4 separate regions of the Homo sapiens genome follow, and all the other regions are linked to region 4. Evidence: fine-mapped expression QTL. A gene starts in region 4. Each other region holds a variant in brackets. All regions are shown on one strand. Distances are from middle to middle. Region 1 overlaps ZNRF2 (zinc and ring finger 2). Region 2 overlaps INMT (indolethylamine N-methyltransferase). Region 3 has its middle 8.1 kb from the start of NOD1. Region 4 holds the start of LINC01176 (long intergenic non-protein coding RNA 1176).

Region 1 (8,172 bases), 27 kb after region 4:
ATTATACCAAGTAAAGTACACCACCTATTCACTGATAACATTTTCCCTACGTTGAAAACACAAAACCTACTTATCGATATTTTTGATATTAAAAAAAAGGACATTCACTATTGTAGCCCTGACAACTCTTCCAGTATTTTTAACCATTCAGATGTATTATGTGGGAATATTTATTAACATAATTTTGTTTAACACATTTCTTTCTACACAAACTGAATTTAAAAGTGTCTATAACATTTTCAATTACAGTAATAACACATGAATAAATTATAAATTAACAAAATCTTCATATCTACTTTAAAAAATCATTTATCAAATGCTAACCTCCAGATTATCTGGAAAATTAAAGTTGCAAATTGCTATAAACCTGGCATCCCAATTAAATTACAGTTTTTAAAGGTATATAAAATCTCCCTCAAATTCCAAGTTCCTCTCCAGAAAATTTTATTTTACCCTTTTCTTAAGTTTACAGCCTGCTAAACATTTTACCCAAATGTGAGAGAACTGCCTGGAGATGCAAAGCACAATAAAATAATTAAGTGAAAAGAACAAACAAAAGATACCCGTTAAAACAGTTATTTTAGCTGGCAGCACTTGAAATTGGTAATCTGTATTTTTTTTAAATTGCATAGCTGCAAGATGATTCACTGCTGATTAACTGTTGAGCAGTTTTATTTAAGAGGATAAGAATATTTAATAAATTGCAATTCAGTAGAATATTCTATATTTAATTAAAATGTAATTATGTAATATGATTTGCTCTTTGGACTGCATTCTGATATTAAACCTTTAATTTAAAAATATTAACATATTTTAGCTTTCCTATGTAGAAGTCTATTTTCCACTCGTGGGGGAGAAAATGGAAGAACTTGAGATCATGGTCTACATTCAGATGTTTTTACTGCTTGATTACATTTCTTGGTTTCACATTTAAGACTTCAATTTATAAGAAGTAAATTATATGTTTTTCAATTTAAGAACAGATGAATGCAGAAACATTATGAACATTATGTTGGGGAAAACAAAGAGACCCCAAATTAAAAAACAAAACAAATCAAAACATAACTAGTTGTGCAGCTCTGGAGAACTTAATAAAAAGTAAATCAACTTTTAAATCAGTTAACTTTGGCGTCTGAATACAAAATGTTTATCAGTATTACCTATGTAGATGACTATTAAGGGATGTGCAGCATTTTCAAAATCCCTGTGTGTCCTTTGTATGCATGTTTGGTACACTGAGTTCTGTGGTCACTGTCCTCTCTTCAGCAGGGTTTTTTTACCCCAGTACGATTGTCCATCTCTGTATTACCAAGTCTCACAAAACTCAGATTTCTGGCTGAGTATGCCTGCGTCTTTGTTTCTCCAGAGACAGATTTTCATATCCTCTTGGTTTTTCAAGCATCTTGTCAAGACAAGAAAACCTGTGTAAAAATAGATTTCCCCATGAACATTGCTTTAGTTACTGTAAGTCTTCATACCCTTACTTACTATTCTGAAAACTCATAAAATCAGTGATCTGGAGAAGAACAGATTAAGAAACAGAAGGATCAATTAAAGTTTAGTCACAAAAAATACATAACAAAGTCATCCCCCTTTCACAATAAGGACTACACGCAAGTAAAGAATGCACACACACGGAGATTTAAAATATTTCTCCCAAATAACTAAAAACCCCAAAATAAGTACAGCAATTTTCTAACTAATCAAGACCACAAATATTCATGTCTCTCTATTTTGGGTTGATTATTAAATTCTTATGCTGAAGGATATCAGAAACGTTGAGCTTTATGGCTACACAGTGCCTTACAAAATGTTTTAACAACACTGAATCCTCCTCAAACCCATATACCTTTAATCTAGGACTATTAAAAGGTATACAAGAATTTATCACTTGATAAATAAGAACAGTCAGGACAGAAGCAAAAATGTACAAGTCAAGATATTCCATGTCTATAAACTCTTAAAAATGACTCTTCAAGACCCACAGAAGCAGACTCCATTGGTTCAGATTTCTGTAGACACCTGATTAACAGAGTTCACCCTGCCCATGTAGTAGGCTAGTTTCAAATTCAGGTTCTATATTCGAAAACAAACAAATAAGCAAATATAACACTCATATGTAACATAAGAAAATGGAAATGTTGTTGAAGACCAACAGACATATGCATTTCAGCTATGAGATGAGATGTATGCTCCACATATCCCATAAGCTCACTGTGACACTAAAGGAAAAATTTAGCTGATGAAAGAAAAAAAATTTATACAATATAATTCCACCTCACCAAAAAAAAAAAAAAAAAAAAAAAAAGCTTATCAGCTCTATGGTCTAAATGTTTGTGTACTCCCAAAATTGCTATGTTAAAACCTAATCTGCAGTGCTATAGTATTAAGAGGTGGGGCCTTTGGGACATGATTAGGTGATGAGGGCTCTGACCACATGAATGCAGTTAGTATCCTTATAGAAGCTTGAGGGAGTCTGTTATCCCACCACGTGAGGACACACAGAAGGTGCCATAAATGAGCAATGAGCCCTCATCAGACACCAGATCTACTGGCTGGAACCTTGATCTTAGACTTCCCAGCTTCCAGAACTGTGAGCACTAAATTTCTGTCATGTATAAATTACTCATCTAAGGTATTTTGTTATAGCAGCCCAAAATGCACTAAGAAAGACTAAAAAGACAAATTTTATCTATAGATGAAGGATTTAGATGTATTACTTTGGCATGTAAAATACTAAGACAAAAATTTCATTTTGTTAGCATCAGTTTCAGTACTTCCCTTAAAATGCTTCTATAATTTTAGCCACAGTTTCGTTTTGTCTCAAACATAAGGTGACAATGAAGGCATTCCAAACCTTTTCTATGGTGAAATAAAAACATATGTGCACATATATTCAAAATACCACTCCACCACTATACTTCTCTTACCTAGCATTCTTACTTCCATTCACATTTTATTTATTTATTTATTTAGACAGGGACTTGCTAAGTCACCCAGGCAGGAGTGCACTGGTGTGTTCATAGCTCACTGCAGCCTCAAACTCCTTATCTCAAGCAATTAGTGTTCAGCCTCAATTCATATTTTAAATGTGTCAAGGCATGATCTAAGTAAGTTCACAGGAAAGGTTAAAATTGGCAGTCTTTTAGTACTCTGCAGTCTACCAAGGCTTCCACATTTCACATGCACATGCGTAGTCTTATGACACTCAACTGCAGTTCTCATTTCAGGTGCTATTGCTGCTATTATCTCAAATCTTCTCTGTCAATATTCTAATCTGCTACTCTTAAATCATCTTCCACCAATACAGCAACAGAATTCCTTGAGGGTGTTTATTACCTCAACACTTTTATTCTCAAATTTAAGAGAAGTTATTGAAATAAAAGGAAATGGTACCACACAGGACTAGACCTCTGGACGTCATCTGGTCTAGTTCCTTGCCATCAGTCTCAGCCTCCTAGAAAAGCCGGCTGTTACTGTCTTGAGTCCCTGAACAAAGAGACTCTCACTCCTGAAACAATTCTAGGATTAGCTAAAATGCTCTGCCTTGATATAACAATCCAATGCTTTATATCATCTCTCCAAGTCTTTTCATAAAAGCTTTTCATATATTTGAAGATAGCAATTAAGTTAACCTTTATTTTTTCAAAGCTAAATGATGTCAATTTAATGCACTTGTGAAATGTGAAAAAAAAAAGCCCTATGAAAATACCCAATTGAGGTCAGCATTCAATTCACTAAACATTTTCAGATAATGCAGAACCATGAAAAACTTAAATCAGTAGAACAAAACTAGTTTTTTTTTCAGTCGTAAAATGCAACTTTATTTTTTGCCTACTATATAGACAGGCACTGTATTACATGCTAAAGATATAAAAGTGAATGATTAAATTGAATGAATAAATTTATGATGCGACTGTTTGAAGAAAATGTTCCTACCTAAAAAGAGCAAAATTGCTAAGAACAGTCTTTGGAACCAGAATACCTGGGTTCAAATTTCATCCCCACCAACAAACTAGTTATCTGAACTTGAAAAGTCAAGTTTCTTAACCTCTCTATACTTAATTTCTTCATCTGCGTAATAGGAACAGTAATGGTACTGAGCTCAAAACGGTTATTGTAACAATTAGACAAGTTACTAATAGATGTAAAATGCTTACAACAACACCTGGCACATGATAATACTAAATGATTAGAATTATTATTTTTTGGTTTGGTTGTTTTTGAGACAGTCTTGCTCTGTCACCCAGGCTGGAGTGCAGTGGCATGATCTCGGCTCACTGCAACCTCCACTTCCTGGGTTCAAGTGATTCTCTTTTGTTTTTTGTTTTTTTTGAGAAGGAGACTCGCTCTGTCGCCCAGGCTAGAGTGCAGTGGCACGATCTCAGCTCACCGCCAACTCCACCTCCTGGGTTCACACCATTCTCCTGCCTCAGCCTCCCAAGCAGCTGGGACTACAGGCACCCGCCACCAGGCCTGGCTAATTTTTTTT[TG/G]TATTTTCAGTAGAGACGGGGTTTCACCGTGTTAGCCAGGGATGGTCTCAATCTCCTGACCTCGTGACCCGCCCGCCTCGGCTTCCCAAAGTGCTGGGATTACAGGTGTGAGCCACCATGCCCAGCCTCAAGTGATTCTTGTACCTCAGCCTCCCGAGTAGCTCGGATTACAGGTGTGCACCACCAAGCCTGGCTAATTTTTGTATTTTTAGTAGAGACAGAGTTTCACCATGTTGGCCAGGCTGGTCTTGAACTTTTGGCCTCAAGTGATCCACCTGCCTGAGGCCTCCCAAAGTGCTGGGATTACAGGCGCGAGCCAGCATACCCAGCCAACAATTAGAATTATACAATATTTTTAATGTAAGTTTTCTATGCAGTAGCCTAAGTGTCTGAAACATACACATACACACTCATGCACCTCAATGAGTAAATGAATAAATAAAAATTATAGTTTAGAATGTATAATTTGGGCTAACGCTTTAAAAAGTAATTACAAAAAAAATTACCTATAAAACAGGAAGCTGACGCTTAATCTGAAGGGTGCTCAGGGCAAGATCTATTTACTTCAAACCATTCATCTATGCAGCTAGAAAGGAACAAAACCAGAAAAATTGAGATACTTATACTAATTATTTATATAATGAGAGCCACAGTAAAAATACTTGACTTTAATATATTTTTTACAGAAAAAAATGAGCATTTTAAATTATATTTGGCATACATAAGCAACAGATAAGAATGTTTATTATATTTTGATTCTAAGCGATTAAGAAAAAAACCTTTGCAAAATTATGCTATAAAGTACTTTAAAGTTCAAACAGAACTACTTCCAAAAGATAATCTGAACTACCACTTTACCAATATTCAAAACTGAATAACAAATTTGCATAATTTTTCTTTTCAAAACAGTTATTCATTTATGCACATTATCAACCTGTTCATGTCACCTATAAATGTATTAAAAAACGGCTTTTAAATTTTAATCCTTGCCAATATTTCATTTTTAAAGCTATATTTATATGTGATTATTGAATATTTAAATCCTATCCCACCATGTAATACATATACATACACAAATAAATATACATTAATCATTTGTATTTAGGAAGTATTTTATGATCTTATTTTATTAGAAGCTAAATATTAGGGTGCATATGATCATCGTCATTGTGGATCTGCACTGTCCAACAGAGTAGACAAGAGCCACACACTGGTTATTTAAGATTTATTGAAATAAAATAAAAAAATCCAGTTCCTCAGTCACACTAGCCACATTTCAAGCACTCAACAGCAACATGGCTCACGACTACTCTAGGGGACAGCATAGATATAGAACATTTCCATTATGGTAGAAAGTTCTATTTCACAGTACCATGATAGGTGAAAAAATCAAGGTCTACTAACTAGCTATTACTTGCCTAACAGCTAGCAAGTTATCCAAGCAGGATTCAACCTGTTCAACATTTTCATTGGTGACATATTTCAAATTTGCATATGCCGCAAAGCTACAAGACTTGGTTAATATACTGAAGGGCAAAATTAACATTTATCATCCTCATGTCCAGATAGGTTGGTTTGGTAGGTAAAAGTGATAAGATGAAACTAAAAAGAAAAAAGGTAGAGTACCACATCAACAGGTTCTTTCAAATATCTGAATTTCAGCTGCCATTAAGACTTTTGTTCTCGAAATATATAGCCAGTTTGGCTTAAGACATTGTTTTCAGCCTGCTCTCTACCACTTGGCCCTGGAAGTTCCACTGTGTCTACCAGAAAACCTCTTAAAACAAAATTCTGAGCATCAAATAAAATACTCCAGATGTGTTAATTCATAATATATCTGAATAGTATCTATTTGCGAGCTAACATGAGTACTCCTTATTTTACAACCAGGTAACTCTGGCTCATCATGAGAAAGTAATCATTTAAAACTCCAGGTCCTCTTCACATAAACGTCTGTCAATCTACATATGTTCCATTCTAGGCTATATTCATTTGTTATTTACATGATTATATTCCCTTCTCTCAGACCTAGCAGGAAAGCACTATTCTCAATTTGGTATTTTTCATTTCTAGGCATCTTCTTACTCTATATAACTATATATGTGTATATTCTAAAACAACATATAGTACTGCTTCCATGTTTAAAATTTTATATAAATGCTACCATAAAACAGCATTATGCTTTTTGTAACTTGCTTTTTTTGCTCAATTTGAGATTTGCAATTGTTAGTAAGTCTCTTGCTTTTACATTTTCGCTTTTTGTTTTTTGAGACGGAGTCTTGCTCTGTCGCCCAGCCTGAAGTGCAGTGGCAACATCTCAATTCACTGCAAACTCTGCCGCCTCCCGGGTTCAAGCAATTCTCCTGCCTCAGCCTCCTGGGTAGCTGGGATTACAGGCGCCACCTGCCACAAACCCAGCTAATTTTTTTTTTTTTCCAGTAGAGACAAGGTTTCACCATGTTGGTCAGGCTGGTCTTGAACTCAGGTGATCCACCCACCTCAGCCTCCCAAAGTGTTGGGATTATAGGTGTCAGCCACTGCGCCTGGCCTGTTTTTACATTTTCATTGTGTACAACATTCCATTATATAAATATAAACAATTTACATATACATTCTTTCACTGATGGACATTTTCAATGATGCTATGAACATTCTTTGAGATAAGGAGTTTGCGCCCAAATACAAGTTAATTTCCTCACTAATCACACTGTTTCAAATGACTTTAAAAAATCACAGCAAGGCTTTCTCAATGAAAGAAGCATAGTGTTGATTTAACTGGCAGAAACTCTTTATTGCCTTCTGGACTTGTACTTTGAATAGTAGCACTGTCTTAGAGCAAAAGATCAAGAGTTTCTCTAGGGCATATATGTAGAGGTGGAATTACTGAGTTGTAGAATATGTACTCCACACAGCTATTACAGGGTTATCTACCAAATATGCCTATTTGTATTATTTATTGGCCAATTGAGGGTCCTTTTTTCTGAATTAACTGATAGTTTTCTAGGAAACTATTATCCAGGTATTTCAGTTATAATATACAGGCTTTTGATAAACACTGCTTTCCACAAAACTTTAAGCTAAAGTAACAGGGCTTGTGGGAAAAGTCAGGTTAAAGGCAGACTACTCAAATAACACAGTTTTATCACCAGAACAAAGACATGCTCATTCCTAATAAATAGAACACGACTGTAAATACGTTTTTTTAAAATGGTGAAGTTAGCCTTACAGAAAGAGGATTAAGGTAGGATTGAGACTGCTGAGTTATGAAGAAAAAAGCTAATGCACAAATTGTGAGAACTGTGAAATATTAGGACTCCACAGCAAAGCCCATGGTCTAATTAAACTAAGAGTAAGAACATGGGGAGATGGGTATACTGTATTCTTATATAGCTCGTTGTTAGCATATACTTTCATCTGCTGTTATCTGATGAAGCAGAACATTAATGTGCTGGAAAATCTTATGTAGAACCAGTAAGATCCTGTTATTATATTGTCTTCACTCTCCCATTTACCAAATGCAATGAGTTCACTGCATTACAGAAAGTCATAGAGGGAGAACGCTATTTCCAATACCAAACCTCTTTTATTATGTGTGTTGAAAAACAATCCTAGTATAAAGTCTAGTTTTTTACTTTTTTGCTGGGTCATGATACAAATAAGTTTTAAATTTTAATATAGC
Region 2 (8,172 bases), 370 kb before region 4:
AACTAGTGCCTTCCCAGCTCAACTCTAGCTGAAGGGTGGCTGCTTTGTGAACCCCTTCCTGTCCCCGGCATGCCAAGTGCTGGGCCTCTAGGTCCAGAGCTGAAGGAGGCAGCCCCAGAGCCCTCATCCATTTCTTTTACTCCTATGCCTGATTATAATGGTTAGTACCCATTTCCATTCAGAGTGACAGAAAAACTCAAAATAAGAGTAACTTAGTAAGGAAGTACTCAAAAAAATAAGGGAATCATGTCAGAAGAACAAACCACCACCCAGCTTAAAAGGGGTCCTACTGGCTAAATCTGTATATCAGAGTAAGTTATGATAGTCACAGATTATAACCAACTGAATAAAATAAGAACCCATGAGTCCATGTTTATATATATATATAGATAGATATATATATAGATATATAGATAGATAGATAGATATATAGATATATATATAGATAGATATATATAGATATATATATAGATAGATATATAGATATATATATAGATAGATATATAGATAGATAGATAGATATAGATATATATATATATATATAGATATATAAAGGAGAAGGGAAAGCCTCTCCTTACATTTGAATGTGAACTCATAAATGTAGAAAGGATGATGGAATTTGCCAATCATCATTTGGCAACCAGGATAATGATAATAATTCATTCAGACAAGAATCATCAATGGATGCTAAAACTAGTGGATACAGGATATTTATGTCATCTCAAAGAATCTCTCCATAAGATACTGCTTAATTACAAAGGGGAAAATGTTCACTTTATGATGGAGAAGTTGGCCAACCCATTAACCAAGTGATCAAAGTTATCATCCCCAGCCAGAGGACTATCAATGTTACATACCTCCTTATGCACTGAAAGAGACACAACACCACTTCTCTGGCATTTCTGCCATAATAATAATAAGGGTAACAATAATATCAGTGACTTAAACAAGATGAAAGTCTATTTGTCTCTCACATAAAAACCCAGGGCTCATGAGTGCTTCACATTATTAGGTTCCCAGTTTCCCTCTGTCTTGTTTCTCCGCCATGTGTGGCCTTGACCTCCTAAACCAAGATGCCAGCAGCCACATTCCAGATCACAGGACAGGGTAAAGGATGAAGAGTAAATAGCAGAGTCTAGGTTTACGACATCTTAAGGAAGGCTTCCAGAAGCTGGTACGACACTTCTGCTCAAATCCCTTCGGTCAGAACTCACTCACTTGACCGCACAAAGCTACAAAGGGGACTAGGAAATATAGTCTTGTTTAAGGCAGCCTTGCCCAGCTAAATGGAGCCCAGCCAAAAAATCTATTACTCTGAAGAAGTTAATGGGCATAGTGGGCACGGGAGAACAACTAGCAATCTCTGGAACACTGGCGTTCTTTTGTTTCAAGATGTCATGTTTCTATACCTCTGGTTCTTTTTATTAGGATCTCAGTTCATGACACCCCACACGCTTATTGTACATATAACATGCCCACATGTGCAGGATCTCAGAACTCAAGTCCTGCAGTCCTTGATCTCCACACGAGCCTGGGCCTGTCTCACTTCTGTGCTTGTACACAACTGTATGTTTTTATAGCTTTTCCCGTAAGTAGAGGCAGTTGCCTACGAAAATTTCTCCATGACCTCTGTGCTGCCTAAGCTGAGATGACCAGAATGGCCAACTTTTGTTCCTTTCCTTTCTAGATAAGCAGTTAAAATGACTCTGGTAAACAACCATGTTCCCCAAGCTTGGGTTTTTTCAGAGTTCTAGGAAAAAGAATAAATGCAGGGTTTTTGAGACTAGAATGGAGTCGCAAGATAAGCAGCATTTCTCAGCAAGGAGTCAAGAATGCATTAGGATAAGATAAGCTGAACTTACAGGCAGAGGGCAAAAGAGCTGTTGGGGTTTCATCCTCCTCTTCCCCACCTCCCCCACAGACCCTTCAACCTCCAGCTCCACCCCCATAAGGATACGGGAGTTAGAAATAGGTCAGGAAGAGATTGGGAAATGTACGTCCTTTTGAGCCTATGAAATGCTTCTGCTGGCATCTCTCCAAGTCTGGCTTGGCCTTGCTACTTGATTCCTATGATGTGGTGGAGGTAGATAGGTAGGAAGTAGGGGGTACCACACAGATAATAAATCTCCTGTGTCTTCTGTTTTCAAATTCAGGTTACTTCAGGACCACAGGGGCCATGACTTAGGAGTGGAGATGGGTTTTTGTGTAATTAGCCGCAACACACAGGTGTTCCCTCTGCTGGGAATGGCTAGCCCTTTTCTCCATCAGCCATCAGTGAACTATTCACTCTTCACTCTCAGCTCACAGATCACCTCCATGGCTTCCTGGACTTCCCCCAAGCCTAGTTAGATGTTCTTCTGCACCCCTGTGAGATGACAGTGTGGGGTCCAGGTTAAGCTCAGGCTCTGGAATGACAGTGCTTGGGTTCATAAGCCCAGCTCTCTACTTAATAGCTACTTTGAGAAGGTCTGTGCCTCAGTTTCCTCACCTGTAAAATGGAATTTCAAAATAATACTGTCCACATGAGCTGTTGTGAGAATTCAGTGAGTTTTACCTGTGGCTGGCCTCATAACGGCATTATTCACAATAGCCCAAACACAAACACCACCAAGTGTCCATCAGTGGATGAATGGATAAACAAAATGTGGCATATCCATACGATGGTATATTATTCAACCTTGAAAAGGAAGGAAATTCTGACACAGTGCAGCACGGATGAACCTGAAGACATTATGCTAAGTGAAATAAGCCAGTCACAAATGGACAAATACTGTATGATTCCACTTATATGAGGTACTTAGGGTAGTCACATTCATAAAGACACAGTAGAATGGCGGTTGCTGGGGGCGAGGGGAAGGGAGACCAGGAGTTACTGTCTAACGGGTACAGAGTTTCACCGTTGCATGATGAAACAGTTCTGTGGACCAATGGTCATGACTTACAAGTCTGCCTCTCTGCCCCAAACAGAAGGTTCCTTCCTTTAGTCACAATAGGGTTTTCTTCCCTAAAGAGTCCTTCCCCCATAGTCTTGACAGCATATCACAGGTTCTGCCCATTGGATAGAGTAAAACAAAATGTTTTATTAGAGCATGTAGAGAGTACTTATGGACAAATGACAGAGCACAGCATAGTCCCTCAGTCCATCCCAGCCCCATTTCATAAGGTAGAACAGCTTCCACAGCCCCCAAAGATTCCCTCACACCCTTGCCCACTCTCTCCTTCCAGGCAGCCAGCTGACTCTCTGCACTGAGCCGTCCAAGGAGCAGAGCCCCGGGTCTGGATCCTGTGTCTTTTCCCTGTGTCTTGGCCAGATCGCTCGCTAAGGGAGGTCCTGACATCACAAGGAGGGGGCATTTGTAGCCTCCTTTCCTTGGCAATCTCCTCTCCTGGACATTGCCTGGCTGCCACCTGGCAGAAGCCAGCCCCTTTTTGGCTGCCTCAACAGACAATTCACTTGTCTTTAAAATTCCCTACAAGACCTATTTTAGCCACTATTCTTCCCCTGTTTGTGGACATGGGCTCTCAGGGATCCACATCGGCTGGACCTCCCACTTCTTCCGCCTGTTGATCATTCTGCCATGAGCATGTCTAAAACTACCCATATTCGGCAAGGCACAGTGGTTCACACCTGTAATCCCAGCACTTTGGGAGGCCAAGGCGGGCAAATCACCTGACGTCAGGAGTTCGAGACCAGCCTGGCCAACATGGTGAAACCCTTTCTCTACTAAAAATACAAAAATTAGCCAGGCATGGTGGTAGACGCCTGTAATTCCAGCTGCTCAGGAGGCTGAGGCAGGAGAATCACTTGTACCCAGGAGGCGGAGGTTGTAATGAGCCAAGAACATGCCATTGTATTTCAGTCTGGGCAACAAGAGCGAAACTAGGTCTCAAAAAAATAAAAATAAAAATAAAAATAAAACTACCCATATTCAATGCCTTTCCAGACAAGGCCGGAGAGGGCTGTACTGAGAGAAGAGCTGGGGTCCACATGCTCTCTGGGGTAAAGCATGAGCCC[G/A]GAAGGGAAGGACTGCTGGCAGGGATGTTATCACAGAAACGAGTCTATGCTAAAAGAGAGCCAAAGGGAAGCAGGGCCCCCTGCCCTTCCAAGCCGGGTGGGGAGACCTGGTGGAATGAGGGTACACAGGGTGAACGAGGAGTCAGAACGCCTGAGTTCTTACTCCAGCTCTGTCACCAGCTTGCTGTGTGTCTCTGGACAAGTCGCTTTCCCTCTTGGGACCTATCGTCCCTGACTACAAAAAAAATGGAGATTTGGCTGGGCATGGTGGCTCACGCCTGTAATCCCAGCACCTTGGGAGGCCGAAGAGGGAGGATCACTTGAGGTCAGAGGTTCAAGACCAGTGTGGCCAACATGGTGAAACCCTGTCTATACTGAAAATAAAAAAATTAGCTGAGTGTGGTGGTGCACGCCTGTAGTCCCAGCGACTTGGGAGGCTGCAGCAAGATAATCGCTTGAACGTGGGAAGCTGAGGTTGCAGTGAGCTGAGATTGCACCACTGCACTCCAGCCTGGGCGATAGAGTGTGACTCTGTCTCAAAACAAACAAACAAAAAACCCGGAGATTAGACTGGGTAATTTTGAAAGACCATCTCAGCCCTGACCCTCTGGGGGAATAACATCAATGGGTCAATTTGTGCAAAACCTTTTACTTTTTAAAGCACAAAAATTTGCTGGGCATGGTGGTGCATGCCTGTAATCCCAGCTACTCAGGAGGCTGAGGCAGGAGAATCACTTGAACCCAGGAGGCGGAGCTTGCAGTGAGCTGAGATCGCACCATTGCACGCCAGCTTGGGCAACAAGAGTGAAACTACACCTTAAAAAAAGCACTTTCACCATCCTGGCTAACACGGTGAAACCCCGTCTCTACTAAAAATACAAAAAATTAGCCGGGCGTGGTGACGGGCACCTGTAGTCCCAGCTACTGGGGAGGTTGAGGCAGGAGAATGGCCTGAACCCGGGAGGCGGAGCTTGCAGTGAGCCGAGATAACGCCACTGCACTCCAGCCTGGGCGACGGAGTGAGACTCTGCCTCAAAAAAAAAAGCACTTCCACATCAATGACTTCCTGCTGTTCTTAGGATGTTCCTGTAGATTATTAGATTAAATCTCATGGATAGGAATACGAGGCCCAGAGAAGTGAAACAATTAGTGGCAGGGCTGAGAGTAGATTCCAGGTCTCCTGGCTCTTATCAAGGTTGCTGTGCCCAGGGTGTACCCACACAAAGGCACAGATTGGGGCTGAGGGAAAAAGGGAGGCTGACAGGTGCTCAGTAGTGTGACCCAATCAGCCTTAAGGAAGGGACATCTTTCTCTAATTGGTCTGCCCAGAAGAGGCACCTTGTTCTCATAGCGCTTCCACAGGGAGATGGAACAGCTTTTCTCAATTAATCAGCCCTGAACACTCCTTTCTGCAATGTGTCCATCTGCAGGAGCACCTCTTCCTAATTTGCACAAAGGCACCTTATGTACGAGGAATACCCTTGATCCCTGGGCTGCTCCTCTTCTCACTTGGTGTCAGGTCCTGGGGTCCAGGTCCAGCCCGTGCTAAAGTCTGAGGGGAGTGGGTAGATGGACAGAAAGAACACTCAGGGCCCATAGGCAGGTGAATATGGTTTTATTCAGCAACAGCTCTCATCAACAGCTTACACTAGCTCTCTCACACTGTCCGCCCTGCCTTGGCTGCTTGAGCCCGTGGCTTCCACACACAGCTGTGCAGCCTGCTCTCCCTTGCCTTCAGGGTCAGCAGCTTAACTTTTTCTCTCTCTGGGCGTGAGCAAGCTGAGCTGTGTCCTGGCTCCTTCCTGTCCATCTGCAAAACGGACAGCTTTGGCTCTCTCTCTCTCTTACTGGGCGCCAGTGTGCCCACCATGTCAAGCCATGTTGAGCTGAGCCGAACCCCAAGAGCCCCTGTACAGCATTAGCAGGACAATTACCTTTTACAGACAACAGTGGCTCAGACCAAGTATGAACTTACACAAACAGGTTATATAACAAGTGGAGGTGTGTGCCTGTGCACCAAACCCACTGAGTCATGCAGGCATGGATCTCTGCCTTGGCCTATTCCTTGACCAAAGCACATCCATGTACCTTACACCTGGGTCTGAAGTAGGGTTGCCAGATGAAATACAGGACACCCAGCTAAATTTGAATTTCAGGTGAACAACAAATCATTGTTTAGATTAAGCATGTTCCATGCAGTTCTGGGGACATACTTAACCTTATAGATTTATTTCATTTATCTAAAATTCAATGAACTGGGGCAGTCTGTATTTGCTAAATCTGCTGACCTTAGTCTAGAGGCAGTGGTATGTTCCAGCTGACTCCAATCAGCTCATGAGAGTCAACTGTAAAATATTTAGGAGATTTATGAGCTGGTTATTAAACCACTGGTGGCTTGAAATCAACCATGGTGGGAGTATTTACACCACAGAAATTGGTGACTACCACACATCAGTGCTTTTCCTTTACAGAGCTGGTTATAGAACATTCCCCCTGGCTGGGTGCGGTGGCTCACGCCTGTAATCCCAGCACTTTGGGAGGCCAAGGTGGGTGGATCACCAGGTCAGGAGATCGAGACCATCCTGGCTAACACGGTGAAACCCCATCTCTACTAAAAATACAAAAATTAGCCGGGCATGGTGGCGCGTGCCTGTAGTCCCAGCTACACGGGAGGCTGAGGCAGGAGAATGGCGTGAACCCGGGAGGCGGAGCTTGCAGTGAGTCGAGATCGCGCCACTGCACTCCAGCCTGGGCGACAGAGCGAAACTCCGTCTCAAATAAAAAAAAAAAAAAAAAAATTAGCTGGGTGTGGTGGCGAGCTCCTGTAGTCCCAGCTACTCGGGAGGCTGAGGCAGGAGAATGGCGTCAACCCAGGACGCAGAGCTTGCAGTGAGCCGAGATCGTGCCATTGCACTCTAGCCTGGGTGACAGAGCCAGACTCCGTCTCAAAAAAAAAAAAAAAATTCCCCAATATACCACTGTCCAGAGGTTTCCTTGTCCTTAACATATTAGGTAGACTCAGAGGTTTCCTTGTCCTTAACATATTAGGTAGACTCTAAAACCACGTCCCTGGGTGCTCCACAGTCACACAGGAGTCAGATCGCATCTAAGATAGCTGTAAGGCTTAGTATATTAGAAAATGGAAAATTCCACTCCTAGGATCCTAGAATGAGGAATGTTGGAAACTTAGAATTCTAAAACAAGGATGTTAGAATCTCAGAATTTCAGAAGATGGAATGTTAGTGTTGAAATCAGAGACTGTTAGACAGTATCCATTCCTCACCCCTCTCTAGCATACAGATGGCCAAGGCCTCACAGCCTGACCAGACCTCTGGCTGGCCCTCCTGGCTCAGGGCCCAGGCTTCTTGCGAGCCACAATGAAGCAGACCCCATTGTTGGCAGCATTGGTGACAGAGTAGCTCTGGGGACTGTGTAGGAGCTGTTCAATGTCAAAGCCAGCATCCAGGACAGCCTGCTCCACCTCCTCTTTCTCCAGGGCCACGCAGGAAAATTCACGCTTCCCCACCATGTAGGACGGGAGCCGAAGCGTGACAGTGGTCACCAGGTGGCCACCCGGCTTGAGCAGTGAGGCAAGGTTGCACAGGGCAGCGCGGTAGGCATCAAGGCTACAGCAGGCACACTCCATGGCCAGCAGGGTGAGCACACAGTCGGCGAGAGGCAACACAGCCGGGGCCAGCGGGTTGCCCAGGTGGACATCGCACTTGAGCACCCGCTTCACCGCTGCCCGCAGCTTCTCCTCCTTCTCCTCCCATCGGCCGCTGCAGAGAGAGAGAGGGAGTCGGGGAGGCCCTTTGAGGTTCTGAAGGGAACTCTCAGTCCACTGTGACCAGCAGATGGAGATGATCTCTGGATCCCCAAAGGATTGCTGTCCCTGAGTCCCTGTGTGACCTGACAGCAGGCTCTTCTTCAATCTGAGCCTCAGTTTCTCCCAAAGAAAAATGGTTAGGGAGAATGGCTAGAACAATTATAGGAAACTTTCTCTCTCTGATTCCATGTGAGCCCCCTTCCCTTAATCCCCAGGATGGACAAAGCCACCCCAAGCACAGAGAGGGCAGTTAACAAACATTATTGGATGGATGGATGAATGAATTAATGAATTTACTACAGATAATGTATGAATATAGCTATCTTAAAAA
Region 3 (8,172 bases), 97 kb before region 4:
AATTTCAACAATTTGATTAAGAGCATCTATAAATTACCTAGATCTAACATTATATTAATACATAATAATAAAAGACTGAATGATTTCTACCTAAAATTGAGAACAAGACAAGGATGTTTGCTCTCACCAGTCTTTTTTTTTTTTCTTTTCGAGACACTCTGTCACCCAGTCTGGAGTGCCGTGGCACAATCATAGGTCACTGTAGCCTCAAAATCCTGGACTTCAGCAATCCTCTTGCATCAGCCTCCTTAGTAGCTGGGACTACAGGTGCACACCACCACACCTGGCTAACTTTTGAAAAAATGTTTGTAGAGATGGGTCTCACTATGTTGCCTACATTGGTCTCAATCTTCTGGCCTCAGGCAGTCCTCCTGCCTCAGCCTCCCAAAGGAGTGGGATTACAGGTTTGAGGCACTGCACCCAGCCTGCTCTTACCCATCTTATTCAACATAGTGCTGGAAGTTCTAGCCAGTGCAATAAGGTAAGAAAGGGAAATAAAAAGCACACAAATCAGAAAGGAATAAATGAAACCATCCCTATTTTCAGATGACATTATTGTCTATGCAGAAAATCCCAAAGAATCTACAAAACATATCCCCTAGAACAAGTAAGTAAGTTCAGCAGCATTATGGGATACAATATAAACATAAAAAATCAATTGCATTCCTATATACTAGAAATAAATACATGGACACCAAATTTTAAAATGCAATAACATTTACAATTGCATTTTAATTGCATATTTATTTATAAGATGAAATTAACATAGCAAAATTAATTTTAAAGTAAACAATACAGTAGCATTTAATAAATTCACAATGTTGTGCAACCACCACCTCTACCTACTCCAAAAATATTTTCATCACCCCTAAAGGAAACCACATACCCATTAAGTAGTTACTGCCCATTTCTCCTTTCCCCAGACCCTGGAAACTTCTAATCTATTTTTTGTCTCTATGGATTTAGGTATCCTGGGTATTTAATATAAATGGAACCATACAATATGTGACCTTGTGTATGGTGTCTCTCACTTAGCATAATATCTTCAAGCTCCATCCACATTGTATCATGTATCAGTATTTCATTCCTTTTTATGGTTGAATAATATTCTGCTTTATGGGTATACCATAAATTGCTTATCCATATATCGATGGACATTTAGATTATTTTCACCCTTGATCATTGTGAATAGTGCTGCTCTAAACATTTATGTACATATGTTTGTGTGAGTACCTTTTTTCAATTATAGAGTCATACCAAGGAGTAGAATTACTGGGCTATATGGTAATTCTATGTTTAACTGTTTGAGGAACTCCCAAAATGTTTCCCACATTGGCTGAACCATTTTACATTCCTACCAGCAATATATACAATTGCTTTATTTAAAAAAAAAGAAATACATAAGTGTAACTCTCACAAAACATGTGCAGGACTTGTATGCTAAAAACTATAAAACACTAATGAAAGAACTCACAGAAGATCTAAATAAATGGAAAGGCATGCCATGTTCATGGATTGGAAGACTCAACATAGTAGAGATGTCAATTCTCCCCCAGATTGATATGCAGGTTTAACAAAATTCCTCTCAAAATACCAGCATAATTATTTTTCTAAAATTTATATGGAAAGCAAAGGGAACTCAAACAATTTTTAAAAAGAAGAATAAATTGAGAGGGATCACTCTACCCAATTTCAAGATTGTATGTTATTAGCATAGAGATAAACACATAGATCGATGGAACAGAACAGAGAATCTAGAAATAGATCAACACGAATATACTCACCTGGTTTTTTGGAAAGGTGCAAAGGGAATTTAATGGAGGAGGGACAGTCTTTTCAACAAATGGTGTCAGAGCAGCAATTAGACATCCATAGTCAAAAGAAAAAGACAAAAATAACCTTGACCTAAGTCTCACACCTTATACAAAAATTACCTCAAAGTCCATCTTGCGCTTAAATGTCTGACATAAAACTATAAAACTCCTAGTAAACATAAATAAATAAATAAATAAACATAGTAAAAAATCTTTGCAATCTAGGGCTTGGCAAACGGTTCTTAGATTTGACACCAAAAACATGATTCATAAAGGGAAAAATGGATAAATTAGACTTCATTAAAAAAACAAACAAACAAACAAAACCTTTGCTCTCTGAAAGACCCTAAGAGAATGAAAAGACAAGCTAGGAGAGGGACAAAACATTTACACACCAAATATAGAACTCTCAAAACTCAACAGTAAAAAAGCAAACAATCCAATCAGAAAAGGAAGCAAAAAGGCTGGGCATGGTAGTTCATGCCTGTAGTCCCAGCATTTTAGGAGGCCAAGGCAGGAGGATCACTTCAGCCTAGGAGGTGAAGGCTGCAGTAAGCCATGATCGTGCCACTGCACTCCAGCCTGGGTGACAGAGTGAGACCCAGTCTCAAAAAATAAAAAACAAAAAAAAAAAAAAATGAAGAAAAGCTACGAAGATACATTTCACCCAAGAGAAGACACAGCAAATAAGTGCATGAAAAGATGTTCAAAATCATTATTAGCAGATTAAAACCACAATGATGTATCAGTTGCTCTATACATATATCAGAATAGCTAAAACAAAAAATTATGACAGCACCAAATGCAGGTGAGTATGCCATGAAGTTGGACCACTCATACATTGCTGGTGGAATGTAAAATAGTACAGTCATTCTGGGGAAAACTTTATAAGTTTCTCAACTCAGCAGTTGCACTTCTGGACATTTCCCAGGGAAATGAAAACTTATTTTCACACATAAACTTGTATATGAATGCCTATAGTGGCTTTATTCATAATAGTCCAAATCTGGAGATAACCCAGATGCCTTTCAACAAACTATGGTAATTCACACCTAGCAATACTACTTACAATAAAAAGGAAAGAACTATTGATACATGCAACAGCCTGAATGAATCTTCAAAGAATTATGCTGACTGAAAACAACTATTCCAAAATGTTACATAATGTATGATTCCATTTATGTATGATTCTTGAAATGACAAAACTGTAGAAATGGATAACAGACAGTGGTTGCCAAGTGTTAAGTAGAGGAGGAGGTAGTATAAAGAGCAACATGAAGGAGGTTTGTGGTGATGGAAATGATCTGTATCTTGATGGCATTAATGTCTACCTTCTGGTCGTAATATTGTATTATAGCTTTGCAAGATGTTACCACTGAGGAAAATTGGGTTAGGATACATGGATCTCTCTTTCTTGCAACTGTATGTGAATTTAGAGTGATCTCAAAAGGTTTAAAAACAAACCAAATATATACATGACAGAATACTATTTGTCCATAAAAAGAATGAGATCCTGTCATTTGCAGCAACATGGATGGAACTGGAGGTCATTATGTTAAGTGAAATAAGCCAGGTACAGAAAGACAGATACTGCATGTTCTCACTTACATGTGGGAGCTAAAAATAAGTTAGTCTCATGGAGGTAGAGGGTAGAATAGCATGATAGTTACCACAGGCTGGGAATCGGGGAAGGGCAGGTGGTGGGGTGATGAAGAGCCATAGGTTAATGTGTACAAAAATAGAGTTAGAGAGAAGGAGTAAGTTCTAATGTTCTATATCAGAGTGGAGTGACTATAGTTATTGACAATGTATTTTATGTTTCATAAGAGCTAGAAGAGAGGACTTGAAATGTTCCCAATACACACAAATAATGAATACTCACGGCTGAGTGTGGTGGCTCAAGGCTGTAATCCCAGCACTTTGGGAGGCCGAGGTGGGTGGATCACCTGAGGTCAGAAGTTCAAGACCAGCCTGGCCAACATGGTGAAACCCCGTCTCAACTAAAAATACAAAGAATTAGCTGAGCGTGGTGGTGGGTGCCTGTAATCCCAGCTACTTCAGGAGGCTGAGGCAGAAGAATCG[T/C]TTGAACCTGTGATGCGGAAGTTGCAGTGAGCCAAGATCATGCCACTCACTGCAGTCCAGCCTGGGTGACAAGAGTGAAACTCCGTCTCAAAAAAAGAAAAGAAAAGAAAAGAAAGAAAGAAAGAGAGAGAAAGAAAGAGAGACAAGAAAGAAAGAAAGAAAGAAAGAAAGAAAGAAAGAAAGAAAGAAAGAAAGAAGGAAGGAAGGAAGGAAGGAAGGAAGGAAGGAAGGAAGGAAAGAAAGAAAGAAAGAAAGAAAGAAAGAAAGAAAGAAAGAAAGAAAGAAAGAAAGAAAAGAAAGAAAGGAAAGAAAGAAAGAAAGGATAAATACTCCATCTCAAAAAAACAGAAAAAAAAGAAAGAAAGTGGTGGACACTCCAAATACCCTGACTTGATTATTACACACAATCTATGCATGTAACAAAATACCACATGTACCCCATAAAAATACAAACATTATGTCTCAATAATAAATTATTTTAAAAGCAAAAACAACTATAAAATAGTTTTAAAATATAAAATCAACAAAGAAAAGGAGACTATTAAAAATGACCAAGAAAGCTAGAAAGACCAAAAAATATCTAAAAATCCTAGAAAATAAAGATATTATTGTTAAAATTAAGAACTTAAATAGACGGTGTATTACTTTCCTACTGCTGCTATAACAAGTTACCATAAATTTAGTGTCTTAAACAATACAAATTTATTGTCTTAGGGTTCTGGAGGCCAGCATTCCAAAATGGGTCTCACTGGACTAAAATCATAGTGTTGGCAGGTCTGCATTCCTTCTGGAGGGTCTGTGGGAGAATCCATTTCCTTGTCTTTTGCAGCACCAGAGGCCACCTGCATTCCTTGGCTCAGTCTCATTTCTCCATCTTCAAAGCCAGCAATGTCGGCCGAGTCCTTCTCAGGCAAGTCCTTCTCAGGCTGCCATCTCTCTGGTTCTCCCTCTTCTGCCTCCTTCTTCCACTTTTTAGTTCCCTTGTGATTACATTGGGCCCACCTCAATAACCCAGGATAATCCCTCCATCAAGATCAGTTGATTAGCAATCTTAATTCCACCTGCAACTTTAGTGTCCCTTTGCCATATTCACAGGTTCCAGGGGTAGGATGTGGACATCACTGGGGGGAGATTACTCTGCCTGCCATAGACAGGTTAAAAAGCAGATTCAAACATCTACAAAATAATTGCTGAGTCAAAAGACAGAACTGAAGTGACTCAGAATGCAGCCAGAGAAACAGGATAAGGAAAATAGAATGAGAGGTTACGACATGGAAGATAAAGTTCAGAATCCTAGAGGAAAAGAAAAAAAAAGTGTCTAATTTTTCTACCATAGGCTCATATAAGGATAGACTGGAGGAATTAGTATCTGTGAAGGAAAATAAATCTTGGGGCCCCAAAATCACTAAGCTAAAGGGAAAAGTCAAGTTAGGGCAAACCTGCCTCCCATTCTATTCAAAGTCATCCCTCTGCTCACTGAGATAAATGCATATCTGATTGGCTCCTTTGGAAAGGCTAATCAGAAACTCAAAAGGATGCAACGTTTGTCTCTCACCTACCTGTGACCTGGAAGACATCCTTGCTTGAGTTGTCCTGCCTTTCCAGACCGAACCAATGTTCATCTTACATATATCGATTGATGTCTCACGTGTCCCTAAAATATATAAAACCAAACTGTGCTCTGACCACCTTGGGCACATGTCATCAAGACCTCCCGAGGCTGCGTCACAGGTAAGCACCCTCAACCTTGGCAAAATAAACTTTCTAAATTAACTGAGACCGCCTCAGATATTGGGGGTTCACATATCCTAGCCATAATTCTGGTTCTTACTGTCACGCACGTCCGTGTGAAGAGACCACCAAACAGGCTTTGCATGAGCAACTAAGTTTTTTAATCACCTGGGTGGAGGTGGGCTGAGTCCAAAAAGAGAGTCAGCAAAGGGAGTTAGGGGTGGGACAGTTTTATAGGATTTGGGTGGGTAGTGGAAAATTACAGTCAAAGGGGGTTGTTCTCTGGTGGGCAGGGGCAGGGGTCACAAGGTGCTTGGTGGGGGAGTTTCTGAGCCAGGAGAAGGAATTTCACAAGGTAATGTCATCAGTTAGGCAGGAACCAGACATTTTCCTTTCTTTTGTGATTCTTCAGTTGCTTCAGGCCATCTGGATGTATACGTGCAGGCTTGGGCTCAGAGGCCTGCATTCCTGTCTTTTTATATTAATAAGAAAAATAAAACAAAATAGTGTTGAAGTGTTGGGGCAGTGAATATTTTGGGGGGTGGTATGGAGAGATAATGGGCGATGTTTCTCAAGGCTGCTTTGAGTGGGATTAGGGGCAGTGTGGGAACCTAGAGTGGGAAATATTAAGCTGAAGGAAGATTTTGTGGTAAGGCTGTTAGAAGGAACATTTGTCATATAGAACGATTGGTGATGGCCTGGACGCAGTTTTGTATGAATTGAAAAACTAAACGGAAGACACAGGTCCGAATAAGAGAAGGAGAAAAACAGGTATTAAAGGACTAAGAATTGGGAGGACCCAGGACATCTAATTGGAGAGTAACCAAAGGGGTTCAGCATAATTACTTGCTTGGTTGGCAAGTTTTTAGGTTCTATCCAAGTTTTTGGGGTGCAGTTCAAGTTGGGCTGGTATCTGGAATGAGACTGGGGCCTAATAAAAAGGAGTGTCCATACAGGAGCTCAAATGGGCTGTACCCTGTAGCAACCCAAGGACAGGCCCGAATTCTGAGAAGGGCAAGTGGTAAAAGTATTGTCCAGTTCTTTTTAAGTTGGAGGCTGAGCTTGGTGAGGTGTGTTTTTAAAAGACCATTAGTCCATTTTACCATTCCTGAAGATTGAGAATGGTAAGGGGTATTGAAGGTTTTACTGAATATCAAGAGCCTGAGAAACTGCTTGGGTGATTTGACTAATAAAGGCTGGTCCGTTATTGGACTGTATAGAGGTGGGAAGGCCAAACCGAGCAATTATGTCTGACAGAAGGGAAGAAATGACCGCGGTGGCCTTCTCAGACCCTGTGGGAAAGGCCTCTACCTATCTAGTGAAAGCGTATACCCAGACCAAGAGGTATTTTAGTTTTCTGACTCGGGGCATGTGAGTAAAGTCAATTTACCAGTCCTGGGCAGGGGTAAATTCTCGAGCTTGATGTGTAGGGAAGGGAGGGGGCCTGAGAAATCCCTGAGGAGAAACAGAATAGCAGATGGAACACTGAGAAGTGATTTTCTGAGGATAGATTTTTACAATGGAAAGGAAATGAGAGGTTTTAAGAGATGGGCTAGCGGCTTGTAACCTACATGGAAGAGGTTATGAAATGATGACAGAATAGAATGGGCCTGTGAGGCTGGAAAGAGATATTTTCCTTGGTCCTAGAACCATTTGCCTTATGTGGGAAGAGATTGATAAGTGGAAGTTTCAGTGGGACAGTAGGTGGGAGTGACCGAAGAGAAGGATAAAAACTGGCCATGAGGGACAGAAGTTGGAACTCTAGCTGCTTCTTTAGCTACCTTATCAGCATAAGCATTGCCCTGAGTGATGGGATCTGATGCCTTTTGATGGCCCTTGCAGTGAATGACTCCAGCTTCCTTTGGAAGTAAAGTGGTCTTGAGAAGAGTTTTTATTAAAGAGGCATTAATGATGGAGGACCTTTGCGTAGTGAGGGAACCTTTTTCTGCCTATATAACAGCATGGTGGTGCAGGATATGGGAGGCATATTTAGAGACAGTATAAATATTGACGTGTAGTCCTTTTGCAAGAGTGAGGGCTCAAGTTAAGGCAATGAGTTTGGCTTGCTGAGAGGTAGGGGAGCGGGGCAGAGTGGTAGCCTCAAGGATAGATGTGGAAGATACTACTATAGCATAGCCTGCCTTTGCTGGTGAATGGCAATTAGGCCTGGTGGAACTGCCAACAATAAACCAAGTGCGATCAAGGTGAGGAACAGGAAAGAAAGAAATATGGGGAAATGGAGTGAATGCCAGGTGGATTTAGAGAGATACAGTCATGGGGGTCAGGTGTGGTATCAGGAATAATGGGGGCTAGCTAAAACAGTAGGGTTAAGTTATTTGGACAGAAAGGCTACAGGGCACAATCCCAGCTCTTGTGTAAGAATTCTGACTGCACAGCCCTGCACTTCGGCTGTGTGTAATGAAAAAAGGGTTGGGATGAGTTACGGAGAGCTAGTGTGGGAGCAGCTTTTAGGGCTGTTTTTTAAGGAACGGAAAGAGGAGTGGGGAAAGGATTTAGGATTAATGGGGTCAGCTAGGTTTGCTTT
Region 4 (8,172 bases):
TCACGACTGTAATCCCAGCACTTTGGGAAGCTGAGGCTGGCAGATCACGAGGTCAGGAGTTTGAGACCAGCCCAACCAACATGGTGAAACCCCATCTCGACTAAAAATACAAAAATTATCCGGGCGTGGTAGCACGTGCCTGTAATCCCAGCTACTCAGGAGGCTGAGGCAGGAGAATCACTTGAACCCAGGAAGTGGAGGTTGCAGTGAGCCAAGATTGCACCACTGCACTCCAGCCTGGGTGACAGAGAGAGACTCTGTCTCAAAAAAAACAAAAACAAACAAACAAAAAACTGAAATAAATGGTGAGATATATTACATTCACTGGTAACAGGACTCAATATTGTTAAGATGTCAAAATTGATCTATAGGTTCAATGCAATCCCAATCAAAATCCCAGTAGGAAGTCTGGTAGTAATTAATAGGCTGATTCCAAAATTTATATGGAGGGGCAAAGGAGCTATAAAAACTAAAACATTTGAGGAAAAAAAAAATAAAGCTGGAGGACTCACACTACCCAATTTCAAAACTTACTACAAAGCCACAGTAATTAAGACAGTATAGTCATAAAGAAGGGGCAGACACAGATGCAGAAAAGAAAATTCAGAAATAAATCCACACCCATGAATAACTGATTTTAAACAAGGTGTAAAGATAATACAGTGGATAAAGAACAGTCTTTTTAACAAATAATGCTAGAATAAGTGTATATACATACACAAAAACAAAAACAAAACTCTCCACCCATTGCTTGCACCACATAAAAAAAGTAACTAGAAATGGATCATACCTTAACTGCAATACCTAAATCTTCTACAACAAGAGTTAGCAAACTAAGGCTCATGGGCCAAATCTTTATCTGTTTTTGTAAAAACAGTTTTACTGAACACCTATTCATTTATGTATTTTATGGCTGCTTACATGCTACAACAGTGACTATGACCTGTAAAGCCTAAAATATTTTCTATTTGGCCCTTTACAGAAAAAGTTTGCTCACCTCTTTTCTAGAAGACAGATCTTTGTAACTTTGGGTTTACCAAACATTTCTTAGATTTGACACCAAAAGCACAATTCAAAAAAGAAAAAGACCCAATAAATTGAACTTCCATCAAAATTTTAAATGTCTGCTCTTCAAAAGACATTGCTAAGAAAACAAAAGAACAAGCCAGACTGGGAGAAAATAGAAAATACTTGCAAGTCATATATATATGTATATATATATGACATATATATATATGTATATATATATGACATATATATATGTCGTATATATATATGACATATATATATGTGTATATATATGACATATATATGTATATATGACATATATATGTATATATGACATATATATGTATATATATGACATATATATGTATATATATGACATATATGTGTATATATATGACATATATATGTATATATGACATATATGTATATATATGCCATATATATGTATATATATGCCATATATATGTATATATGCCATATATGTATATATGTCATATATATGTATATATATGTGACATATATATGTATATATATGACATATATATGTGTATATGACATATATATGTATATATATATGACATATATATGTATATATATGACATATATATGTTATATATATGACATATATATGTATATATATACATATATATGTATATATGACATATATATGTATATATTTGACATATATATTTGACATATATATATTTGACATATATATATATTTGACATATATATATATATATTTGACATATATATATATATATATATAATTTTTTTTTTTTTAAAGACAGGGTGTCACTCTGTCTCCCAGGCTGAAGTGCAGCAGCACAATCATGGCTCACTACAGCCACAACCGCCCAGGTAGCTGGGACAAAAGGCGTGTGCCACCACCATGCCTGGCTAATTTTTTGTATTTTTTGTACTTTTTTTTTTTTTTGTAGAGATGGGGTTTCACCATGCTGCCCAGGCTTGTCTCGAACTCCTGGGCTCAAGCAATTTGCCCACCTTGGCCTCCCAAAGTGCTGGGATTACAAGCGTGAGCCACCACACCTGGCCAAAACCATATTTTTGATAAAGGATTTGTATCAAGAATATACAAAGAATTCTCAAGATTCAGTAAGAAAACATACAATCCAGTTTTTCAAAAATGTGCCAAAGGGTTGAATAGACACTTCACTAAAGAAAATATACCTGTAGCAAAGAAGAATATGAAAAAATACACAACATCATTTGCATTGGGAGAATGAAAATGAAAAACACAATGAAATGCACCGTATACCCAAGTCAAAACAAAAAAATAGCAAAAACATCAAAACTGCAGACAATATCAAATTCTGGTGAGGATGCCAATCACCTGGAATTTTCATACATTTTTGGTGGGAATGCAAAGTGGCACCACCAGTTTGCAAACCTGTTTGGCAATTTCCTACTAAGTATATATACATATTTATCATATAACTAGCTATCCCACTCCTAGGAATGTACTCAAGAGAAACAAAATCTTTGATTCACATAAAAACTTCTAGGTGAGGCCGGGCGCAGTGGCTGACGCCTGTAATCCCAGCACTTTGCGGGACAGAGGCAGGCGGATCATGAGGTCAAGAGATCAAGACCATCCTGGCCAACATGGTGAAACCCAGTCTCTACTAAAAATGCAAAAATTAGCTGGGCGTGGTGGCATGTGCCTGTAATCCCAGCTACTAGGGAGGCTGAGGCAGGAGAATCACTTGAACCTGGGAGGCGGAGGTTGCAGTGAGCCAAGATCGGACCACTGCACTCCAGCCTGGCGACAGAGCGAGACTCTGTCTCAAAAACAAAACAAAACAAAACAAAAAAACTTCTAGGTGAATGTTAACAGCAGCTTAACCACTGTCACTAAAAACTGGAACCAACACAAATCTTCCACTAGTAAATGGATGAGTAAACTATGGATTGCCACTCAGCAATTAAAAGGACCAAGCTGCTGAATACACATGACAACATGGATGACTCAAATGATTATGCTAAGTGGAAGAAGCTGGGCTTCTGTGATTTTCTATTCTCATTCATATTCAAGTTGCTTGGGTAACTTGTAATCTTTATCGCTTGCCACACATTATTCTTGAATAAGTATTTAACGGGAGTCTCCTGACGCTTGAGATGAGCCCTCTTCCAGAGAGATCTTGCTGTGCTTCTGCCGAATTCAGATTTTGAGAATCCTTGGCCCAACCAGCTATGTATATTTGAGAAGCTAATCTTCAGGGAAGCAGATATGCACAGGCCTTCCAGGGAAATTGTATTTTCTATTTCTTTTCCTCCCTGCTCCAAGAGCACCAAGGTAGCCACAGTTCATTACAACTGCTGGGAAGAGGGCACTGGGTTCAGCTCTGACTCCTCCTTACCTTTAGCTCCTTGTTATCCGATTCCTGTTGGTAGGGTCTCCTGCAAGCACACTGTCTTGCGTGGGCTCTGTGCTTTAACATGTTTTCTTGGCTCAGCCAGGCCACAGAAACAGCAGACAAGTGTTTGTGGTATCAGCAACTGCTGTCTCAGCACAGGCAGCTTTTTGTTCCAGTATTCCATTTCCCTCCCTGGTTATAGACTTTTATCCAAAAACTGGCCTGGAAGTTCAATGTTTTTTTAGTTCTTCACTTAAAAAAAGCCATTATTTTGTTTCTTCAAGTTTTCATAACCAGCCATCACCAGAAACTGGAAGTCCAAACATGCTCTTATTATTTAAGTAATTGGTGTACATGGTATAAATTCACGTCTTACAGAAAGATGCACAATGAAAAAAAGCAGCCTCTCCATGGCCCCTCCTCCCAATTCCAGTCCCACCCACTCCAAGTAAAGCAAAAAGTGCTTTAGTTGTATTTCTAAACGTTCCTACAACAGATATCTATTATTTTGCAATGGGAAAAATTTTACTTTAAAACATCCCCGGAACTTCTAATCTTCTGATACTTATAACCTCCATATCTCCAAGTAACATCTTTCTCTGTCTCTTGGTTCACAAACTCCTATGTCCAATATCTCCCACCTAAAAATGATGCCCTTTATAATCCCCTTGAAAAAGTGGAGTATACTTACCTCCTTGCCACAATCCCAATATGTTAGTCTTATTATTTCTTAGCTTACTGAGTGCCAACTATGTGCCAGGCAGTGCTTTAGAACCCATGGATACAATAGTGATCAAAACTAACAAAGTCCTTGACTTCACAGTGCTTACATTCTGGAAGAAGAGTGACAATAAACAAACATAAGATTTGTCAGGTAAATGTTATAGAAAAATAGAACAAGGTAAAGGAAACAGGGAATGTAGGGGTGAGGGCAGATTCATGAACTTATTTTGTATTGTATAGTTAAGGAAGGGCACTCAGATAAGGCGATATCTGAGCCAACGCAACAAAGGAAGTGAAAGAGGAAGCCTGTGGATACTTGGAGGAATTGTTATAGGCAGAAGGAAGAAGTGCCAAGGCCCTGACACAGGGGCTTGCTTGCCTGGTGTATTCCAGGAATAGCTTCAGGGGAACAAGTCAGGGGTGAGCAGGAGAAGATGAGCTAGAGAGGCAGGAGTGAGTGGCATGTACATGTCTGTGTGTATGCATACATGCACACTCCGGATGGCTGAGGGTATTTTAGGTCATGGTAAAGACCTTAGCTTTGGCTCTGAGTAAGATGGGAGCCAAGGGGGATTTTCAGCAGAGTAGTACCATGATCTGACGCTGTATTTGTTAACTTATAATGACCCCTATATTCCTTGATCCATCAACTTTAGACCAAAATGTTCATCGAAACATTTTTTGTAACAGTAAAATATTGGGGGAAATTATTTGACCACAAGCATTGTCTAAAGATATTATGGTACAACTACGAAATGGAATACTATGCAAATACAAAACATGATAAATGGAATGTTAGAAATGTGGTTCTAAAATACCACATATAATGTTATCCTGTGAATATATATGCATTGAAGAGTATGGAAAGACATATGCCAACAAATAAGGAGAAAAAAGTCTCTGGGGAGATGGGAAAAGGAGAAATATGAAGGTATTTTTTCCTTTGTGCCTTGTGTTTCCAAAAGTTCCTACAACACATATCTATTATTTTGCAGTGGGGAAAATTTTACTTTAAAACATCCAAGGCCAGGCGTGGTGGCTCACGCCTGTAATCCCAGCACTTTGGGAGGCCGAGGGGGGTGGATCACCTGAGGTCAGGAGTTCAAAACCAGCCTGGCCAATGTGGTGAAACCCTGTCTCTTCTAAAAATACAAAAATTAGCCTGGTGTGGTGGCGGGCGCCTGTAATCCCAGCTACTCAGGAGGCTGAGGATGGAGAATCGCTTGAACCCGGGAGGTGGAGGTTGCAGTAAGCCGAGATCGCGCCACTGCATTCCAGCCTGGGCGACAAAAGTGAAACACCGTCTAAAAAAAAAAAAAAAAATCCAAAAGATTAGAACCATAAACTAATCATTTTCTTTGTTTTAAGCTCAAAACAATTATATACAGCTCCTATGAGAATAATCAATACTGAATATCAACAAACTGACACGCATGTGGCTACCAAGTCTCTAGAATGACCCACTGAAATTCAGTAAAAGCTTAGAGAGCACAGGGTTAACTGCCATGCTGCACTATTTCCCCTCTTACTTGAACAAAGTAACACTTGCTGATGTAACTGTGCTTGCCAAGTTTTTGATAGTAAGTCCATCATGTCTCGTAACTTCAAAGAGTCTCAAAAGTGTCAAGATCCTAAGACAGGAAACTTCTGGTAGCTGACAATGTCTGGTTAATAGGGGGTTTGGTGAAAGCACAGGCAATGGGCACAGTAGAGAAGCAAGCAGCAAACAATGGAGATGTCCAGGACCATCCTGGCACGTGTTCTCCAGCGTTTCTAGGAAAGGTCTCTGGTCTAGTTATCAACCGCTGTGTAACAAACCATCCCAAACTTAGTGAGATGAAACAACAATCATATATCATCTTCTCTCACAATTCTGGGGATTGACTGGACTCAGCTAGGCAGCTCTCCCTCAGGTCTCTCATCCAGCTCTAGCCAGATGGTGGTTAGGGTGGAATCATCTAGAAGGCTTCCTCACTCACATGTTTGGTGGTTGACGTGGCCAGGGCTTTCTCACACAGCATAGAACCTTGGTTCCACGGAGAACCTTCCTGAGAGAAAGCCAGTTAGAAGCTGTATTACCTATTCTAACTAAGCCCTGGAAGTCATACAGCATCACTTCTGTTGCATTCTGTTAGTTAGAAACAAGTTACTAGGGCCAGTTCATACTCAAGATGAGTGAAATTCAGATTTTGCTTCTTTTTTTTTTTTTTTTTTTTTTTTTTTTTTTTTTTTTTTTGCAGATGGAGTCTCACTCTGTCCCAGGTTGCAGTACAGTGGCATCATCTCCGCTCACTGCAAACTCTGCCTCCCAGGTTCAAGCGATTCTGCTGCCCCAGCCTCCTGAGTAGCTGGGATTACAGGTGTGCACCACCACACCCAGCTAATTTTTGTATTTTTAGTAGAGACGGGGTTTTGCCATGCTGGCCAGGCTGGTCTCGAACTCCTGACCTCAGATAAGTGCTCCAAAGTGAGAGCCATCACTATTATTTGCATAATCTCATTTACACAAACTTGATAAAAGCATAGTATCAAAAGGCTGATGTGAACTGCTTCATTAATAGTCTTATTTTCATCATCATTAGGTGCGGTCCACCTATGTCCCTGGCATTAGATGACTCCACAAAGTTTTATTTTATATTGAATTATATTCGCCTACTGCCTTTTTTTCGAGACAAGATCTTCCTCTGCTGCCCAGGCTGGAGTGCAGTGGCGCAATCATGACTCACTGCAGCCTCAACCTCCTGGGTTCAAGTGATCCTCCCATCTCAGCCTCCAGAATAGCTGGGACTACAGGCATGCCCCACCAATGCCTGGCTAATTTTTAAATTTTTTATAGGGATGGGGTCTCACTATGTTGCTCAGGCTGCTTTTGCACTCCTGGGCTCAAGTGATCCTCCTACCTCCCAAAGTACTGAGATTACAGGCATGAGCCACTGCGCCCAGCCTATTGCCTTCTTTTTAATTCATAATTTCAGAGATACTAATGGATGTCTTTCACACAACACTTCAAAAGAAGTTAACACTCTGAAAAAATACCACAATAATTTTCTAAATATTCAGTCATTGACTTAAATATTTATAGATGACTATTTTGTGTCAGAATCTTTTCTGGGTTCTGGGATACTGCAATGAACAAGACAGAAAAAAATCTCGCTTTCATCGAGTCCTCATTCTAGTGGGAGAAGGGAGATAAGATAAACAAGGAAACAAACATGATGAGGTAGGCAGTGCTAAGTGCTAAGAAGTTTAACAGGGAACAGGATGCAGAACAATGGGGGTGGTCTTCTTCTTTAGACAGAATGATCAGAGAGAGGCTATTTTATAAAGATGGGGTGGCCACAGGCGGCCTTTCTGAGGTGTGAGATTTATGCAGAGGTCTGAACAAAGAAAGAGCCAGCCAAATGAAGATGTGGAGGAAGAGCATAAATATTATAATACAAAAAACTGTATCTCACTATTAGTTCTTATTCCAGCACTAGTTCAATGGGACTTTAAAGCAAAAATCCACTTGCTAAGACACAAATCTCTCAAACATATTGGGCAGAATAAAAAGTTCTGCAGTTTTAAAAAGCTGCTGTTATAATGGATGGATTAAATGTTTTTAAATATGAACCACATATAAAAGTACCAGGAGAAAATACAAGTGAAAGTTTATGTAAACTTGAGATGGGTAAAATCCTTCTAAGCATGACCACAAAGTTCAAAAACATACAGCAAAGATTGAAAAGTGTGATTACTTTTATAAGAAGGCAAAAATATTGGACAGCAACAAAATACCCAAAAACACCACAAGAAAATACACTGCCATGAAGATTCCAAGATAAATGGCAAACTGAGAAACACATTTGCAACATATATTAACAGTCTAACACTAAAAATATATAAAAATAAATCACTAAGGAAAAAAAGAACAGGCAATAGTCATAAGCAAGTAATTCACTAGGAAATACACATGGCCAGGACACTAATGAAAGACATTCAACTACAGTCATCATAAAAGAAATGCAACAGAAACTTATTTTTTGCTTATAGTATAGCAAAGATGGTAAAAGGGTGACAAAAC

The links. PIP is the estimated chance that this variant, and not a neighbour inherited with it, causes the effect.
Region 1: its variant is the best candidate, but not a certain one, in a credible set for the expression of LINC01176 in whole blood (TOPMed, PIP 0.64).
Region 2: its variant is the best candidate, but not a certain one, in a credible set for the expression of LINC01176 in prefrontal cortex (GTEx, PIP 0.89).
Region 3: its variant is the best candidate, but not a certain one, in a credible set for the expression of LINC01176 in ileum (GTEx, PIP 0.58).

What each region holds. Positions count from the first base shown.
Region 1 is chr7:30,359,284-30,367,455 of GRCh38, reverse strand. ZNRF2 (zinc and ring finger 2) reads right to left here. Exons shown (of 5, transcript NM_147128.4): 4 at 5,000-5,079; 5 at 1-1,421. The coding sequence ends at 5,022. Among named protein-coding and RNA genes, the nearest start is that of LINC01176, 28 kb to the left of the region's middle. The variant TG/G (reference allele first, on the strand shown) is at 4,493.
Region 2 is chr7:30,755,044-30,763,215 of GRCh38, reverse strand. It overlaps INMT (indolethylamine N-methyltransferase), which reads right to left. Exons shown (of 3, transcript NM_006774.5): 3 at 5,614-7,794. The coding sequence ends at 7,365. The region is part of intron 2 of INMT-MINDY4 (INMT-MINDY4 readthrough (NMD candidate)); the gene reads right to left. Among named protein-coding and RNA genes, the nearest start is that of INMT-MINDY4, 7.0 kb to the right of the region's middle. The variant G/A (reference allele first, on the strand shown) is at 4,016.
Region 3 is chr7:30,482,839-30,491,010 of GRCh38, reverse strand. No RefSeq gene overlaps it. Among named protein-coding and RNA genes, the nearest start is that of NOD1, 8.1 kb to the right of the region's middle. The variant T/C (reference allele first, on the strand shown) is at 3,897.
Region 4 is chr7:30,386,253-30,394,424 of GRCh38, reverse strand. It overlaps LINC01176 (long intergenic non-protein coding RNA 1176), which reads right to left and starts at 3,540. Exons shown (of 3, transcript NR_108081.1): 1 at 3,390-3,540. RefSeq lists an enhancer at 2,740-3,358.